Linked DNA regions of Homo sapiens. The protein of the gene in region 3 purifies or fractionates together with the protein of the main gene of each other region. This does not show direct contact. Each region holds a gene or a part of one and is shown on either strand. Other genes may lie near its edges.

Region 1 (4,717 bases), on a different chromosome or scaffold from region 3:
TATTATTAGCAATGAGAAACTAAAGTTTCCACAAGGAACTCCTACTTTTTTCTAAGTAGAACCAGTTTGGAAAACGTATGAATGTTTAAAAAAAAAAATCACAATCTCCTAGTCGATTATACTAATTTTTTAGATTTCATTGGCAGATTATTTACCTCTGAGCCTGAATATATGTACATAACATACTTTACTTTTTTATAGAAATGTGTTTGTTGCAACCCTAGTACTTAGAGCATGCCAAACATATATAGGTAAATATTTGTTGAATAAATAAAAAGTAATAATAAGACTGAGGAATCAAGAGAAATAATCTAACAATTAATTGCCATCTGCATTTGTAGAATTCTAGAAGGTGTTATTTTTAAAAACAATAAAAATTAGTATTCATCATGTTTTCCCCGTGGGAATATAGGTAATAAAATGAACACAAATGTGAAATCAAAAGAGCCCCACTGTGCATTTGAAATATAATCCCCTTTCAAAATTCCTTCTTTGTTCCTTAATAGATATTGCAATAGAGATTATGACACAAAAATCCAACAACCAAAAATGTTATAATGCTGGAATACAATATTGAACTGGCAGTATAAATTTTTAAATTAATTTATCCACATAATTTACAATGACAATATAATTATCCCACATACTGATTGTAATTAGTAAAACATTCATAAATGGAAAAACACAAGCTATTTTGAATAAAAAAATGCTTATATTTTAAATAATCCCTTGTCTCTGTTCAAAACTTCAACATTTTAAACTTGTAAGTTGCGATACAACTCAAACAAAAGACAGTAAATATGTAAAAACAACCTGATGGTAAAAAATTAAATGTCCCCATTTAAAAACTAATAAAGAAAACAATCTAACTTAAGAGATCACTTCTCTAATTCCACTTCTATAATTCTATACCGGACAAATAATCTTGAAAAAAAAAACAGATTTACAAAAAAAGAACATAATTTTTCATATAACAAAATTTATCCCTAACTTAAGTGTCTAACAGTAAGAAAATGGTTAAATGGATCATGTATTTCAACATCATGCACTAAAACAAATATAGAATGAAAGAAAATTGGCTTGAAAAAATTTAACTTAGTATGGTCTTAATATTTTAAAATATGCATAGCAAAAAGTTGGAAAGCAATATGCCAAAATATTAAATATAATTGGTAGCACTGTAGATTATTTTAATTTTATGCTATGTGTTTTTACTGTTTTTTAAATTTTCAGTACTAAAGTTGGTATTATTTTATAATCAGAAAAAGTATTTTGTAATGAAAAAGAAAAGTTTTAATGTAAACAATGATTACTTCTTGATCACTGATCATTTCATATATTGTAATTGTGTGTATTCCCTGAAAGCTTCTGAAATAATGGGTTGTTTCAGATCAAACCAAGGACTTTTCCAAATAGCATCAAAGTACATTTTAGGTTTGATCTGATGAATTATCTTAAATAATGAAGTCATTATTCTTAAAGAGTGAAATAATTTCTAAAATAATGAAAATAACAAAATTACCTTAAATAATGAAAGTCAATACTAACTGTGAGGAAACTTGGTGCTGCAGATAGGATATTTATATTACAGATGAATATTTTAAAGGAGAAATAGCCTACCAGTTCTGCTAATTTATAAGAGCTACGTTTTTTTATTCACACAATCACTAGGGTTACTAGTATATTCAGCATTAGGTGCCTGAATTATTATTAGTAGAAATGAAATTCTACCTTTGCAGGATCTTAGACATAAATTCCATAACTCTGCAAGGCTTATTCCGATAATTTGGGTAATAATTAGTCACATAGCATTGTAAGTCAAATAAAAAACAATATATTGGTGGAATTACTACTTACTGTGGTAGCACAGTGAATATCTTTCCATACTGTGGCTTCCCTGGAGAGATCAGAGACTTCAAACAAATTATCAAGAATCACTTCCCCAATCATGTCATGTCTAGAAAATCTGTCAAAATCATACACACTGAAATGTAGTTTTCGGTTGCTTAGTTGATCATATGCTACAGGAAATTGAAAAGTTTCATCAAATAGAGGATTTAAAGTCTTTCTGTGCACGCGGGTCTGAAATTTCTTTTTCCTATCTGGAAGAAGATACATCTTCACATAAGGGTCAGAAGTTCCTGTGAAGTCTTTAGCAGGGAGATCTAAAGCTTTGATAATTTTAACAACTAGAAGTTCATTTTCATAATCATACTGGAGGGTAAAGTTAAGTTTCCCACAGATTTTGACATCTTCGTTTTGGTTGCCCTCAGAGTCAACTGATTTCTGTTTGTAGAGTTCTGGCTTTATCCTCCCAATGCTGGTTGTTGTTTCTCCTCGTTGTAAAACAGGTTCTGTGCCCATGCTAAAATCAACACTGGAAACCTGCATTTGCCTCGGCAGGTGTCTTCGGAAGGAACTGTGGCTGAACACACACACATATACACAAAATCATTGAGGGAGATCATTTTGATGAGAATGTTATACAGTGACATATAAACTCTTCCCCACCCCCAGAATAGTGAAAAGATATCTATATCTACATAGATAGACACATACATATAATCAAAGAGGTACTTTTGAAAAAATAAAGAAGTACAATATTCAAAGAGAAGTCTCCTAAAATTCCAGAACATCTGAAACACTTAAATGTTCTTTTTGTTTGTTTGTTTTGTTTTGTTTTTTGTTTTTTGAGACAGGATCTTGTTCTGTCACCCTAGCTGGAGTACGGTAGTGCTATTATAGCTCACTGTAGCTTAAAACTCCTGAGCTCAAGCCATCCTCTGGCCTCCGCCTCCTGAGTAGCTGGGACTACAGGCATGTGCCACCACACCTGCCCAGTTAATTTTTAAATTTTTTGTAGAGACAGAGTCTTGCTATGTTGCCCAGGCTGGTCTTGAACTTCTGGGCTCACGCAATCCTCTCACCTCAGTCTCCCAAAGTGCCGAGATAACACAAGTGAGCCACAACACGTGGCTGGCCAATGTTAATTTTCATATGCTTTTGAAATTTTGTACTCTCAATCATAAGCACATAATTAAAAACAATTCTAAAGAAACATGATTAGCAAAAAAATTCAATATTCCACAGAAAATTGTGAATGTTATCAGTCATCTGGGTCTATCTAGATGTAAGTATTATACAGACAAAATCATTCAGATGGCTGGTTTCTTTTCACCTGGATATTTGAGTCTCATGAATTTCACATTTTAGTGACTATAGTATTAAAATTAAAAACATGTTATAGGTCCACATTTTCTTATAATGAGTTGTTTCTAATTCTTAATCTAACTAAATACATATTTACTTTTAAAAAGAATATATAGTTGTGGCAGCCAAAAATGAGTACATTTTCTTTTTTTCAACATGCTGTGGTCTTCAGAAACTCTAAGGATAAAAACAAACGTAGAATTTTAGAATTTGAGCCCAACAAAACAAGTTTTTAAAAATTCAGACTGAATTTCCTATAGTCACTATTACTACTCATCTAGTCAACATTTCCAGAATATTAAATATATAAGCTTACTAATGTCTTCTACATGTGACTTGCATTAAAGATCTGCTGCTTTTATACTTACTCCATGCTTTCTGGCACGAACTGTGCCAAACTACCCATCTCCTCAAAGCTTAGTCCCACGTCTTTTGTTATATTTCTTGTCAGTCTGTTCATCAGACTAATCATCAGTTCTTGGACTATAATTATTGTCTTGAATCTGATGGTTTCTCAGATAAATCCCAGCTACATAAACTTCTAGTCCCGTATCTCTAAATTTCTAAGGAAGATTTCTAAACAGATGTCTTCATTTCTCCCCAAATGCAACCAAACTCATCATTTTCTCCCTTTTGCTTGCAAATCGGTTCTTTATCCCACAATCTCTGACAATAGCACTAATATTTTTTATCAGTCACTCATGCTTCCAAGAATGAAGTATGCTTTGAATCATTCTCCCTTTACCCATAGGATTTACTCAGTTTTCTAAATCCTGTTGCTTTTCCTTTGAAACATCTCATATAGTTGTTCATTCCACTCCTTTTCCATTGCTGTGGAGTCCAGATCCTTATCTCCATATATTTTGCTTTCTCTAGTCACCTTCAGCTGGCTTTTTTTTTTCCTTCCAGCTCTGTCTTATACTTAATACCCAGTCAGTGCACCCTCAGAACACTCATTTCAAAATACTTTATTCACTTCTGTTGTCTATTGCAGCAGGTCTACACCTGTTACAGCACTAAGTAATATAGATGACATTGCATGATTAATATTTGATTCACTGATGCACACATGAAGCTCGATTTCTTTTTTTTCGAAATGGGTTCTCACTCTGTCACCCAGGCTGGAGTGCAGTGACACAATCTTGGCTTACTGCAACCTCAACCTCCCAGGTTGAGGCGATTCTCCTGCCTCAGGCTCCCAAGTAGCTGAGATTAGAGGCTCCCACCACCGCACCTGGCTAATTTTTGTATTTTTGGTAGAGATGGGGTTTCACCATGTTGGCCAGGCTGGTCTCAAACTCCTGACCTTAAGTGATTTGCCCACCTCCACCTCCCAAAGTGCTGGGATTACAGGCGTGAGAACATTGATTTCTTTTCTTTTTTTTTTTTTGAGACGGAGTCTCACTCTGCCGCCCAGGCTGGAGTGCAGTGGCGTGATCTCGGCTCACTGCGAGCTCCGCCTCCCAGGTTCATGCCATTCTCCTCCCTCAGTCTTCCGAGTAGCTGG
Region 2 (4,717 bases), on a different chromosome or scaffold from region 3:
ACCTTTTCTATGCTTTAATAAATCTTTTGCATAGGTAAACACATTTAGTCAGAGCTATAAGACAACATAGAAACAGACAAGAAATACACAGACATTCTGATTCTTCTCCAAATAACTATTTTGAGGAAACTCTTGACTATATGTTACCTTTAGAAATACCTTAACCTCTTCTGCTCATACCTAAAACAATTTGTGTAACCTTCAACTTTCAATAAAATCATTTTATAGTATAATTTATCTTGAATATCTTATACTCCTTAAAGCATTACTTCAAAAACAAAATTCTTCAAATAATTCTATAAATAAGTAGCAAATGTTATTGCACCTTAGCTTTATAATTTAAAATTTTTTCCATTACTTCAAACATTAGTTTCTAAAGTAAATTAATACAGTCTGGGCATATAACTACTCTTTCTCATAGAATGGTATTAGTCATCAAGATATTTTAATCTTATGTAAGGACATTTCTGATACTGGGAACTTAATTATAATACTTTCTCCAAATTCAGGCAAAAGCAAGATGATTATAACACAGTTAGCTCTTCATTACCTGAGTTAATTAAGAGGCCATTCTGGCAGGTAACTCCAGTAGGAACCTAACTTGTTGTCTTAAAGATCCTGAGATCTTTAAGAGGTCAGTTCCTCAGGCAGCCCTTTCTCAAGGATCTTAACTATATACTCTCCTTTCAGACCTTCTCACTGCTCAGGCTGTGCTGAACTGAAGGTGCCAACCTCGGGACAGGGGCCACAGTCCACAAAATCCCTGTAGCAACAGTATGGTAGCTGAAGGATGGGATGTTTGATCAAGGGGGAAAAAAGGTGATTTCAGGTGGGATTTCTGACTCAGGATCAAGGTAATAAGAGCTTTACTCTATGAGATGTAACAATGACAAAAGAATATTAAAATCTAAGGCTGCACAAGGCGCTGTAAACAGCAGTGATCTTTCTCTTAGAACTGTTAGAATTCCGTTGCACAAAAGAACATATATGATCTAGGACTGGAATAAAAATACTTGAGAAGTTATCTTTCTCTAGGCAACAAAGTAGTGTTATTTCTGCTTAGCAAAAGTTCACCTACGCCTAGATTCATTTCTAGCTTTTTTTTTTTGAAAAGTAGATTTTAACAAAATGGTCAACAAAATAATTATGAGTTTTAATGTTGGTTATGTCAATTTATTAGTAATTTTGGTCTTCCCATTAGTGTCCTGTATAAAAATGATGAGTTTCTCCGTAGTACGTACAACAGCTTTTAAAGAGAACGTAGGCAGAATAATTCAGACAGAAACCATAAATAACCAGAAGGCAAAGTGAAGCAAAATTGTCTCATGTGATGTTTATCCCAATTTATATCGATATTCTTCTATCAATTTTTAGACTGTTAAAGTAAAATCTTAATCTAAGTGTCTTATGAATCATTATAAAAGATTCCAACCTTTAAAAATTATGAAAGGTTTAAAGACCTCATTAATAGAGTTAGAAATGTTTGCTATTATCCTACTGGTCAACTTTGGTCTGTATTTTCTGCACCTCTTCAGGCCAAGAATAACAATCAGGTAGAATCTGGTCATAATCAGTACTATACATCTGGGAGCGGACAAATGCTTCTTTGTTTTGCGGTTCAGGATAAACTGTGGCTGTCTTTTCTTGGTATGCATCTTTCACAATCTAGATATAAGAAAAGAATATTAATTATTTTAATAAATAGAGGTAATCATGAGCCCATGTGAGTGGAAGTTTTTATCCATTTCAAAAACACTGTATCCTATGTTTGCAAAAACATTAAGTGTATTATAATAAAAGCACATATAAGCAATGAAGATATAAAATGAAAATGCAATTATAAATCATATAGTGAGAGAGAAAAATGACATCAGCAACTAAGGAAAGTGTGACCAGGTGAGACTGATTCAAGTACTATCACATCTGGATTTCTCAGAGAAGCCAGTGTTCAAAGTCTTGACATGACCTGACTGACAATTAACTTGAAATAAATACCTAAATAGTCCTGCTAAACTTGAACCTTGAATTTTCAAGAATCCCTATTCTCACCACAGCCTCCTACAAAATCTCTTCCTGTACCCCAGGGTCTCCTGATCTTGCTCAGCTAATCATCTAGACACCACAGTCAGGATGAGCACTCTTTGCCAGCGTCACAGATTCTCTGGTCATCACGCCCTGTGTTTCATGCATAATTCTAGTCCCTCGTCTGGGGACCCCTCAGAGCTGGCTTTCTCCTTTTGTGGCTGTGCATCCTAGAACGATGCAGTAAACTTTCTGTGGTGCTATATTTTTTTTCTAGTCTGCACATTATACTTTTTTCTCTCTTTACTTAAAACTTCCTCTTGTGGTTCCCAAAAAGCAATTCCAAACCTTCCCCCATCTTCAAGCTTCCATTTGACTCTCATCACTCACTGGAGAATCACATCATCATATCACATCATGGGAGAAAATTTCAACTACTCAGAGAAAATGACCTTAATTTCCCTTTTGACCAACTCAGACTATCTCCTCAGTGTCTTCATACATCTTCTCTTTCCCTACTTTCTTTAAATGGATTCTCTTCATCAAAATTAATCACTTCATATATACTATTTAATTCACACCAGTTTTTTTTTTTTTTTGAGATGGAGTCTTACTCTGTCACCCAGGTTGGAGTGCAGTGGCACGATCTCAGCTCACTGCAACCTCTGCCTCCTGGGTTCAAGCGATTCTCTGGCTGGCACAGTGGCTCATGCCTGTAATCCCAGCACTTTGGGAGGCCGAGGCAGGTGGATCACCTGAGGTCAGGAGTTCAAGACCAGCCTGACCAACATGGAGAAACCCCATCTCTACTAAAAATACAAAATTAGCCGGGTGTGGTGGTGCATGCCTGTAACCCTAGCTACTCGGGAGGCTGAGGCAAGAGAATCACTTGAACCCGGGAGGCAGAGGTTGCAGTGAGCCGAGATCACACCATTGTACTCTAGCCTGGGCAACAAGAGCAAAACTCCATCTCAAAAACGAAACAAAACAAAACAAAAAACAACAACAACAAAAAAACAAGCGATTCTCCTGCCTCAGCCTCCCAAGGGTTAACAGGCTCCTGCCACCACACCCGGCTAATTTCTGTACTTTTTTAGAAGAGAAGGGGTTTCGCCATGTTGGCCAGTCTGGTCTCAAACTCCTGACCTGAGGTGATCCACCTGCCTTGGCCTCCCGAAGTGCTGGGATTACAGGTGTGAGCCACCGTGCCCAGCCGAATTCACATCAGTTCTTAAAACAATATTTATATGACTGACTTATTTTGATAAGTCTGATTTCAAAGAATATCAGAATGATTATCTCATCTCAATGTAAAACTATGCATTTATGAACAATTAAGGTTATGAATACTGTGCTGTATTATGAAATGTCTATGAAAAAGCAGGAAACAATATGTATATTTCATAATTATAATAATGTTAGAAAATAAACAAACGAAAGACTCAAAACAAACACAGGAAAAAAAATAATACTTATATTAGAAAAATAGGATATTGGTTATTTTCCTTTTCTCTATTTGTTTTCCAAAGTGCCCATAATATGGTAGTATTACTTTTTAAACAGATTTATTGAGATATAATTCACACAAAATTCAAGCATTTTAAGTGTACAACTAAATTATTTTTGTAAATTTACTGAGCTGTGCAACAATATTACCACATTCAGTTTTAGAATATTTCCATCACCCCAAAAAGATCCCTCATGCCTACTTAAGATGGCTATGTTAATTTTATAATAAAACACATTGTTTCATTACTGACATAGACTATGTGGAAATTCATCTCCTCTTTCTGCTCCCAGTTATACCATAGAAATAATCCCTTCTCCCAATGAAATCTTCACTCTCTCTGTCCTGTCAATGCCAAACTCTCTGACAGAGTGGCTTATATTTTATTGCTTTCCTAATTCTCTGCCTTCTGAACCTCCTGTACATCTTGAAATTTCTTTTGTAAAAGTCTCTGATAACTTGTTAAGTACCAAATAAAAGTCTGCATCTGTTTTTCTCTCCAGGATTTGGCTGTGTTGGTCACAATTTCCACTCCCATTCTGAAATTGTCTCTTTCCTAATTATTGACATGCTGCTCAGTTTGGAGTCTCTTAAAATCCTGACCACTTCTCTTCTTAACTGGCATCTTTCTTCTGTCTTCTAGACAGAATAATAAACTATATTCTATTCTCATTTTTATTTCCTTTCTATACTTGCTTTCTTGGCAACCTCACCCACTCCTAGATATTCACCAGTTACCACATGCAGAAGATGCCCAGGTCTTTTATCTAGCCTCTCTTTAAGTTTCAGTCATTTCTATCTACTTGATAAAATGGTACATTTGAATGTGCCATTGATACCTCAAACTTGCAGTCCACTTACATGATCTCCCTCTCTGAAGTTGGTTCTTTGTTCTAGTTTCTCAATTTCTGTGTATGCACTCTGTATTCTTCCATTATTCTAGGTGTGATATCTGAATCTTTTGGCACTCCCCTGCTGTCCCCTGCTTTTTTTCCCCTCTAATCATAAGCTAACTCTTTTTCATTTAAATCTCCAAAATGAACTTAAAATGATAATATGCTATTCAGTATATTAATAGTTTAAACTACTTAAAAACTAGCAGATACATATTAGTAGAATATATGAACATACTTTTTCATAGATAACCAAGCAGATTATTATGTAAAGGTTTTTAGAGAATTACTTCTT
Region 3 (4,164 bases):
CTGGGGCTTGGCCTGGGCTGACCGCCCCGCACTGCCCGTCCTGACCCGGCTGTCTATGCAGGTCTCTCGCATGGTGCACGCCATCAAGATGGGCTGGATCCAGCCTCGCCGGCCCCGAGACCCCACCCCCAGCTTCTATGACCTGTGGGCCCAGGAGGACCCCAACGCCGTGCTCGGGCGCCACAAGATGCACGTACCTGCTCCCAAGCTGGCCCTGCCAGGCCACGCCGAGTCGTACAACCCACCCCCTGAATACCTGCTCAGCGAGGAGGAGGTGGGCCTGCATCCTGGGGGCCGGGACCCTGTCCCCATGCTTCCCTGTGACCCTCCCCACCCCTGTGTCTTGGTCTCCACAGCGCTTGGCGTGGGAACAGCAGGAGCCAGGCGAGAGGAAGCTGAGCTTTTTGCCACGCAAGTTCCCGAGCCTGCGGGCCGTGCCTGCCTACGGACGCTTCATCCAGGAACGCTTCGAGCGCTGCCTTGACCTGTACCTGTGCCCACGGCAGCGCAAGATGAGGGTGTGTGGGGGTGGCACACCAGGGGGGTGGCACAGGGGGCAAGGCTGACCTGGCGCTCTCCTGCCCCAGGTGAATGTAGACCCTGAGGACCTCATCCCCAAGCTGCCTCGGCCGAGGGACCTGCAGCCCTTCCCCACGTGCCAGGCCCTGGTAAGTGGAGACTAGGGGGCTGGGGTTGCACCCTCCCAGTCTGACTCCTCACTGCCGCCGCCTCCTCAGGTCTACAGGGGCCACAGTGACCTTGTCCGGTGCCTCAGTGTCTCTCCTGGGGGCCAGTGGCTGGTTTCAGGTGGGTCCGAGCTGGGGGCAGCCTTGAGCTGGGGGGCAGGTGGGATGGCCAGGTGTTGAGAGCTGTCTCTGCCGCATCCAGGCTCTGACGACGGCTCCCTGCGGCTCTGGGAGGTGGCCACTGCCCGCTGTGTGAGGACTGTTCCCGTGGGGGGCGTGGTGAAGAGTGTGGCCTGGAACCCCAGCCCCGCTGTCTGCCTGGTGGCTGCAGCCGTGTAAGTGGAGGCCCTGGGGGCTGGGGAGCCAGGGGTGGCACTGTGCTTAGGGGCCGTGTCTGGGCCTGGCTCACAGGGAGGACTCGGTGCTGCTGCTGAACCCAGCTCTGGGGGACCGGCTGGTGGCGGGCAGCACAGATCAGCTGTTGAGCGCCTTCGTCCCGCCTGAGGAGCCCCCCTTGCAGCCGGCCCGCTGGCTGGAGGCCTCAGAGGAGGAGCGCCAAGTGGGCCTGCGGCTGCGCATCTGCCACGGGAAGGTACGTGGGGCGCCTTGGGGGTGAGGCTGCAGCGGGAGGGGCCCGGCTCAGCCACTCAGCCAGCCTTGCTCTCCTGCAGCCAGTGACGCAGGTGACCTGGCACGGGCGTGGGGACTACCTGGCCGTGGTGCTGGCCACCCAAGGCCACACCCAGGTGCTGATTCACCAGCTGAGCCGTCGCCGCAGCCAGAGTCCGTTCCGCCGCAGCCACGGACAGGTGCAGCGAGTGGCCTTCCACCCTGCCCGGCCCTTCCTGTTGGTGGCGTCCCAGCGCAGCGTCCGCCTCTACCACCTGCTGCGCCAGGAGCTCACCAAGAAGCTGATGCCCAACTGCAAGTGGGTGTCCAGCCTGGCGGTGCACCCTGCAGGTGAGGGGTGGGGGCGGTGCACCCTGCAGGTGAGGGGTGGGGGGGGGGGCGGTGTACCCTGCAGGTGAGGGGTGGGGGTAGGGGCAGTGCACCCTGCAGGTGAGGGGTGTAGGTGACGGGCAGGGCAGTGCACCCTGCAGGTGAGAGCGGGAACACCTGCATCACAGCCTTTGGCCCTAGGTGACAACGTCATCTGTGGGAGCTACGATAGCAAGCTGGTGTGGTTTGACCTGGATCTTTCCACCAAGCCATACAGGATGCTGAGGTGAGGAAAGCTGGGGGTGGAGGCGGCCAGCAGAGCCCCTCCCTTCAGCCCGAGCCTGCCTTCAACCTGGTTCCCTCCCCCCAGACACCACAAGAAGGCTCTGCGGGCTGTGGCCTTCCACCCGCGGTACCCACTCTTTGCGTCAGGCTCGGACGACGGCAGTGTCATCGTCTGCCATGGCATGGTGTACAAGTGAGTGCTGACCCTGCCTGGCCCCCTCCCCAGGGCAGTGGTGTCTGGCCGTGCCCTGAGCCCTCCTCGTCCCCACAGTGACCTTCTGCAGAACCCCTTGCTGGTGCCCGTCAAGGTGCTGAAGGGACACGTGCTGACCCGAGATCTGGGAGTGCTGGACGTCATCTTCCACCCCACCCAGCCGTGGGTCTTCTCCTCGGGGGCAGACGGGACTGTCCGCCTCTTCACCTAGCTGTTCTGCCTGCCTGGGGCTGGGGTGGTCGTGCTGAAGTCAACAGAGCCTTTACCCTGTGCTGCCTGGTGCTCCCACCTTCTTGAATTGGGGTTGCCAACAAAGCCGCCCCCACCACAGCGCCGAGCCTTCCCCTCACTCAATTTTGCAAAAACAGTGGGGACAACACAGCCAGTCCAGGGCACCCTCTGGCCCATCCCCTAAGAGGCTCAGCATCGCACCCTGTCAGTCACTCGCTGGGAGCAGATGAGTTTATTGGGCACATCCCTCACTGAAGGGCTTGGGTTTGGTCCCCAGCAGTGCCTGTTCTGGGGCCAGGCCCCTCCAGTCGTGTGCCCAGGCTGTGGTCCTCAGGAGGCCCTGTCTTGGAGCTCAGGCACAGGTCTGGGTGCATACTCCTCGCTGGGGGTGCTGGCCGGAGCCTTAGGCGAGCTTCACCAGGCGGCCCAGGGCCTCAGCAGCCCTCGTCCGCACCTCGGGGGCCGGGTCCTTCAGCAGGATCTGGAGCGCTGGGGGTAGAGGAGGGGGGCTGCCTGCGGGCTGTGACCTCGGCATGCCCATGCCTGCGCGTGGGCCACGCTCTCCTGACAGCCTCTGCTGGGAGGCTCAGGAGCCAACGGAAAGATCGTTTTTCCTTTTTTAGTGTTTTTTAAGCTCTTTTGGAACAGTTAAGAAGTTTCCGTGAATTACTAGAGACGATGAGGTCACCAGTGACAGGGAAAAAGTCCTGAAATCCAGGAAAATCACTTAGTCCCTGCGGGTGCCTACAGGGTCAGCAGGGCCCAGCGGAGGGGCCCCGTGGAGGGGTGCTCACCCGCAATGAGCTGGTCCAGGTCCACCTGCGGCTGCTGCCTGGGCTCCGAGTGCAGCACCAGGAACCCTGTGAAGTGGGGGCATCAGGCGGGGCTGCCGGGCGGCGTGGGGGTGGGGCAGGGGGTGGTGCTTACCGGTGAACAGGGGTGCAGCAGCTCGGACGTTCTCCCAGCTGCTCTTGAAGTAGAACAGGCAGGTGGTCAGGAGACGGCCCAGCAGGTCTGGGAAATGGTGCATCTGGGGAGAGGCCTGGTCAGTGCCGCCTGGCCCCGCCCCACCCACCACGCCCCGCCTGGCCCCACCCCTCACCAGGTGCTTGCAGGTGGTGTTGAGGAACTCCCCGAAGTGCAGGGCTCGGCCCTCCTGCAGGTGTTTCTGGAAAGCAGCTGAGAGCTCCTCACATGCCAGATTGGGGCCACACATGCGCAGGGCAAACCTGCAGGCCTAAGGGATGCGGCACTGGGGCCAAGTCCAGTTGAGGCCACCCACCCCATCCCACTCACCCCCTGGCTACTCACGCTGGCCACGGTGGCCTGAGGGTCCTGCAGGTGCAGCAGCAGGGGCGCCAGCCCGCCCACCACCTGGTCCAGGAAGACGTCCTCACAGTCTCCGTGGCAGACCTTGTTAAGGTGCCCAAAGAGGCGGATAGATGCCGTCCGGAACTCCATCTTCTCCTGGGAAGGACATGCAGCATACGTCTCCTCACAGGCTGTGCCCCTGCAGGCCTGCCTGCCTAGCCCCCTGCCATTGATGGGTGCCCTTGCCTGACCCGGGCCAGGAAACACCCCGACGGGTGGGGGCCTTACGGGTGGGGGCTGCCAGGCCCAGCAAAGCAGCAGCCCTGCAGGTCCGCGCTCTCCACGGTCACCTAGCCGAGGTGGGAGACAGGGAGGAGGGTGGGGCTGGGGCTAAAGCTCAGAGTAAGAGGCAGGAAGGGCTGGGGCCCTCTTCCCTCCCCCTGCCCCAACCAGCCTACACTGTCGAAGAAAGGCCGGATGCGGATGGCCACGTGCAGC
Region 4 (3,941 bases), on a different chromosome or scaffold from region 3:
TCCCCGTTTCAGGAACAGGCAGGCGAGCCTGGAGAGAAGAGCCAGGGTCAGCCGGCCGCCCAACTTCTCCCAGCCTTCCTCCCCATGCCATCATCCCTACCCCGTGTGGCCAAGAATGGTTGCGTGGTGCAGCGGGCCCCGGCCCGCACTGTCCGCTTGGTTCACGTTCGCCCCGTTCTGGAGGAGAAACTCACAGGCCAGAAGAGAATTCTGCATGGAGAAGTCGAGAAGGGGGGTTGAGGGTGGCATCCCTAGTGGTGGATTTCAAGATGTCTTAGGGTGGCGCCAGTTCAGAGAATGGGAGGGTGGAGTGTGGTAATCAGGAGTGTGGAAGGGGTTACAGCTAACTGTAACCAAGCTAGGCTTGGCTCTAGCTCTTTGCATGTATTCATATATAAATCCATAGTACAAGCTTTTGAGGTATGTTACTATTTTACAGATGAGGCTGAGAGGTTAATAACTTGTTAAAAGTCTCCTGTAGGCCGGGCACAGTGGCTCACGCCAGTAATCCCAGCACTTTGGGAGGCCGAGGCGGGTGGATCACAAGGTCAGGAGATCCAGACCATCCTGGCTAACACGGTGAAACCCTATCTCTACTAACAATACAAAAAATTAGCCGGGCATGCTGGCTGGCGCCTGTAGTCCCAGCTACTCAGGCAGCTGAGGCAGGAGAATGGTGTGAACCCGGGAGGCGGAGCTTGCAGTGAGCCGAGATCGCACCATTGCACTCCAGCCTGGGGGACAGAGCGAGACTGTCTCAAAAAAAAAAAAAAAAGTCTCCTGTAAGAGGTGAGAGCCTGGGTTCAAACTCAGGTTCTCTGCCTCCAAATCACACACTCTTAGCAACCAGTCTCTATTGTTGATCTCTCCCTATGGGTGGAAGCCCTAGGGAACAGGTGGTGGGGAAAGGAGGTAAGGGCAGGGCCCAGAGTCAGGAGTAGGTGTCAGAGCCCTAGGGTGGGGTGGAGAGGTCAGCAGGGCTCTTACAGCAGCTGTGGCCTGGATCAGCGGTGTGGCATTATCTTGGCCCCCATTGACCCAGTTGACATCAGCTCCATGGGCAAGGGCATCAGCCATGGTGGGAAGAGATGGAGGATGCCCAGACGCTCGAAACAGTAGGGCCCCAGGGTGCAGGCTTCCCAGGTCCTCAGAGGGGGGCTCTGTTCGGGGGATTTGGTTCTGTTAGGGGGAAGCAGCTCCGAGTCTGGGAAGAAAACCCTCAGCAGTGTCCCAATGCTATAATGGGACAGGTCTCTTCTAAATGATGGGGAGCTTGGGACTGTGGAGGGAATAGAGTGATGCAAGTGTGGGTATGTGTAAGTATGCGTATGCATGTGTACGAGTCCCTAGGGTGTGGGGGAGAGACGGCATCATCACCTCATCTGGTCCAACCACACTTGGCCTCAGCTCTCAACCCCTGACGCTCCAGCCAAACCCACCCCCTCTCTCTCTCCTTTTCTTGTGCTGTTGGCACCCCTTACCCTCCCTGCCCACGCCCAGCCCCACATTCCTTCTCATTCTTAATGTCACACTCCACCGTAACCCCTGAAACGGCAGTCCGGTCCCTCCGACATTGTCCAGCGGAAGGCCTGGGCTTCACACTCTGTGCCTCCCGGCGCTACCTGGCACGATGCCGAGCACACAGCAGATGCTCAATGAATGCCCAACCAACCCTATACCTGGCTTGGATCTCAAGCTCCCTGGCCGGGGCCTGATGGAAGGCTTTGGGGGCACAGGAGGCTGCCCCCTTGGGCGCCCCCGGCCACCTCTTCGCCCTCGAATCTCAGGCAGCTTGGTCAGGAACTTCTTCTCCACGTATTTAGCGTGAATCCAGGCCTCCTTCTCCTGCCTGTGGGAGGGGAGAAGCACGCAGTCTTCCCTCTTCTGCTCCAGGGGTCCCCCATTCCCCTGGGAGGCTAAACCCCAAGCTCACCGGGAGCAGCTGGGCCCTGGTTTCTTCACTGCCATGGCCTCCACGCGGGCCTCATAGATCTGGTTGATGATGACATTTCCCAGCTCACACATGAGCTTCAGGAGGCCCAGGCAGAGGCAGAGACAGGGAAGGTGGGGGTGAGTGACTCCTCAGGGATCACGCCCCTGCACCGCCATGTCCTTGCCCCACCCCAAGTTCTTGCCCCCAATCTTCACAATACGCTAAGTTACCTTCACTAGTTCTGGCTCCCATGAGTCAAGGGTCAGAGACCGGACTTTGGAGAAGTGAACACCAAGGCTCCTGGAGGGCCAGAGGGGGAGGGTCAGGCCCTGTGCAGGGGGGCAGTGGCCTGGGGAGCTGCTGCTGCTCCTGAAGACACTGGGAGGCAAGGCTGGCATGGGGGCCCGTGCAGAGGTGCTGGCCCAGGAGGCAGGGCAGCTGCGGCCATGTAACCGCCATGTAGCCTTGACCTGGCCCTGGCAGGACTCTGCCTCGTCACCATTCCTTCTTCCTTAGGTTTCATTTCAAGGCCCTCATCACTCCAGCCACCTCCCTTCTCTAGTGACACTTGTGACACTTTGGCCTGGACAACCTCTCCCATGTCACCTCCCTTCCACCACACTGAGGTGGGGGGCGAGGGCCTTAGATACTTGCTAAGGCCTCATGACCGTTTCTCTGCCTAGTCTTCACTGGCTCCCCCACCCTCAGCAGCCTTGACCCCACACTTCTTCCAACCAAGCCAACAAATTCTGGGTATCCCCCAATTCTGGCCAGACTAGGACACAGAGGGGCTAGGCCCGCCTGGGTCCAACTGGCACCCCAGAGGCTTGGGCCCAGGCCTGGTACCCAGTGACAAAGCCAGAAGCTAAGAGAGGAAGCCAGGACAGGGAAGGAAGAGGGGCCGGTGTGATGCGCTCTGTATTGGAGCCGCACTGTGGCCCGAAGGAGTGGGGCTCCCGCATGGGCCTTGTGGAGTAACCTGTGGATGCCGGAACACTGAATGCAGAGGGTGACACCAAGGTTGATGCTGGCCCACTCCGGGGCTGGCTCCCGGCAGTCGCAGCACTGGGCATTGCCATCCACACTCTGGACCTGGGCCACCACGTGCCCGACTCCCCCAGGCTCCCTTCCCCTGGCCATTCCACCAGAGCCCAGGGTGGCAGCAGAGCCTATGGCCAGGTGTCCTGAGCCCTGGGGGAGAGAGGGGAAGAAAGGGTGGCCAAGGGGCCTAGGGTAAAGGGTGCCCCATCTCCACAGGCAGCCTGGCTCCGCACCCCCAGGTTAAGGTACCTGGCCTGGACCCCGGGGGCTGTCATCAAGGCGAGCCTGACTGAAGGCAGAAGCAATGCTGCTCTGCACAGCACTGACCCACAGCTGCAGGAGGCGCTCTGAGTCAGCCTGGAGGAGGCAGGACCTAGGTAGGAGGGTGAGGGAGATGGCAGAGGGGTCTGAGGCCTGGGAAGCAAAGTGGCAGCATGGGCAGACTGACATTCAGCCAGTATTCAACCAGTTCCAGTTGCATTGAAAGACTTCTGTACCAGTTGGTAATATTCTCCTAAATATCCCCCATCACCCTGTACCCTCTTCCACAATGGCCCCCCAGTCCAGCCGCCAAAGAATTAAATTAAAGTCTGGAGCTGCATGGGGGGCCTCCATTGTGGTGGGCCCTGCCTTTCAGATTGGCAGTTGTTTAGATATATTAGAGTATCACCCCTGGGGATTGCACTCACTTGCTGGTGGACACCACCTCAAAGCAGAACCGCCTTTCTGAGTCAGGGCAGAGTTTCACTGTGCAGAGACGAAGGTCATCCACCACCACAGTCACAGGGTCCTGGCAGGATAAGGTGATAAGGGGCCAGATGTCCAGCTGCAGGCAAGAGCTGAGTCTCCCTGGGGCCCAGGCATCCAGGACCCAGGTCCACTCACCTTGTACTTCTTCTGGTAAACCAGTTGGTTGCTCTGAATGGTGAACCAGCGTCTGTAAGAGAAGGAAATCATTACAGACATA

The links.
Region 1: the proteins of BOP1 (region 3) and SYT10 purify together in Homo sapiens (affinity purification with mass spectrometry, with the first as the bait; one study listed by BioGRID). This does not show direct contact.
Region 2: the proteins of BOP1 (region 3) and ME1 fractionate together in Homo sapiens (co-fractionation; one large-scale study listed by BioGRID). This does not show direct contact.
Region 4: the proteins of BOP1 (region 3) and ACAP1 purify together in Homo sapiens (affinity purification with mass spectrometry, with the first as the bait; one study listed by BioGRID). This does not show direct contact.

Annotation. Positions count from the first base shown.
Region 1 is NC_000012.12:33,404,932-33,409,648, forward strand, and holds part of SYT10 (synaptotagmin-10), read right to left. Parts: intron 3,388-4,717; exon of another isoform or gene 3,308-3,387; intron 2,426-3,307; coding exon 1,858-2,425; intron 1-1,857. UniProt on the Homo sapiens protein: Ca(2+) sensor specifically required for the Ca(2+)-dependent exocytosis of secretory vesicles containing IGF1 in neurons of the olfactory bulb. Exocytosis of IGF1 is required for sensory perception of smell.
Region 2 is NC_000006.12:83,210,430-83,215,146, forward strand, and holds part of ME1 (NADP-dependent malic enzyme), read right to left. Parts: intron 1,666-4,717; coding exon 1,495-1,665; 3' UTR 1-1,494. UniProt on the Homo sapiens protein: Catalyzes the oxidative decarboxylation of (S)-malate in the presence of NADP(+) and divalent metal ions, and decarboxylation of oxaloacetate.
Region 3 is NC_000008.11:144,260,335-144,264,498, reverse strand, and holds the end of BOP1 (ribosome biogenesis protein BOP1), read left to right. Parts: intron 1-61; coding exon 62-274; intron 275-356; coding exon 357-518; intron 519-587; coding exon 588-668; intron 669-737; coding exon 738-807; intron 808-888; coding exon 889-1,021; intron 1,022-1,097; coding exon 1,098-1,278; intron 1,279-1,357; coding exon 1,358-1,646; intron 1,647-1,761; exon of another isoform or gene 1,762-1,826; coding exon 1,827-1,911; intron 1,912-1,995; coding exon 1,996-2,103; intron 2,104-2,181; coding exon 2,182-2,335; 3' UTR 2,336-2,454; downstream 2,455-4,164. Other genes in the region: MROH1 (maestro heat-like repeat-containing protein family member 1), read right to left, coding at 2,759-2,844, 3,150-3,215, 3,283-3,385, 3,458-3,584, 3,667-3,822, 3,955-4,016, 4,125-4,164. UniProt on the Homo sapiens protein: Component of the PeBoW complex, which is required for maturation of 28S and 5.8S ribosomal RNAs and formation of the 60S ribosome.
Region 4 is NC_000017.11:7,346,214-7,350,154, reverse strand, and holds part of ACAP1 (arf-GAP with coiled-coil, ANK repeat and PH domain-containing protein 1), read right to left. Parts: intron 3,912-3,941; coding exon 3,860-3,911; intron 3,765-3,859; coding exon 3,664-3,764; intron 3,348-3,663; coding exon 3,224-3,347; intron 3,125-3,223; coding exon 2,913-3,124; intron 2,234-2,912; coding exon 2,164-2,233; intron 2,029-2,163; coding exon 1,934-2,028; intron 1,850-1,933; coding exon 1,680-1,849; intron 1,161-1,679; coding exon 988-1,160; intron 211-987; coding exon 101-210; intron 29-100; coding exon 1-28. UniProt on the Homo sapiens protein: GTPase-activating protein (GAP) for ADP ribosylation factor 6 (ARF6) required for clathrin-dependent export of proteins from recycling endosomes to trans-Golgi network and cell surface.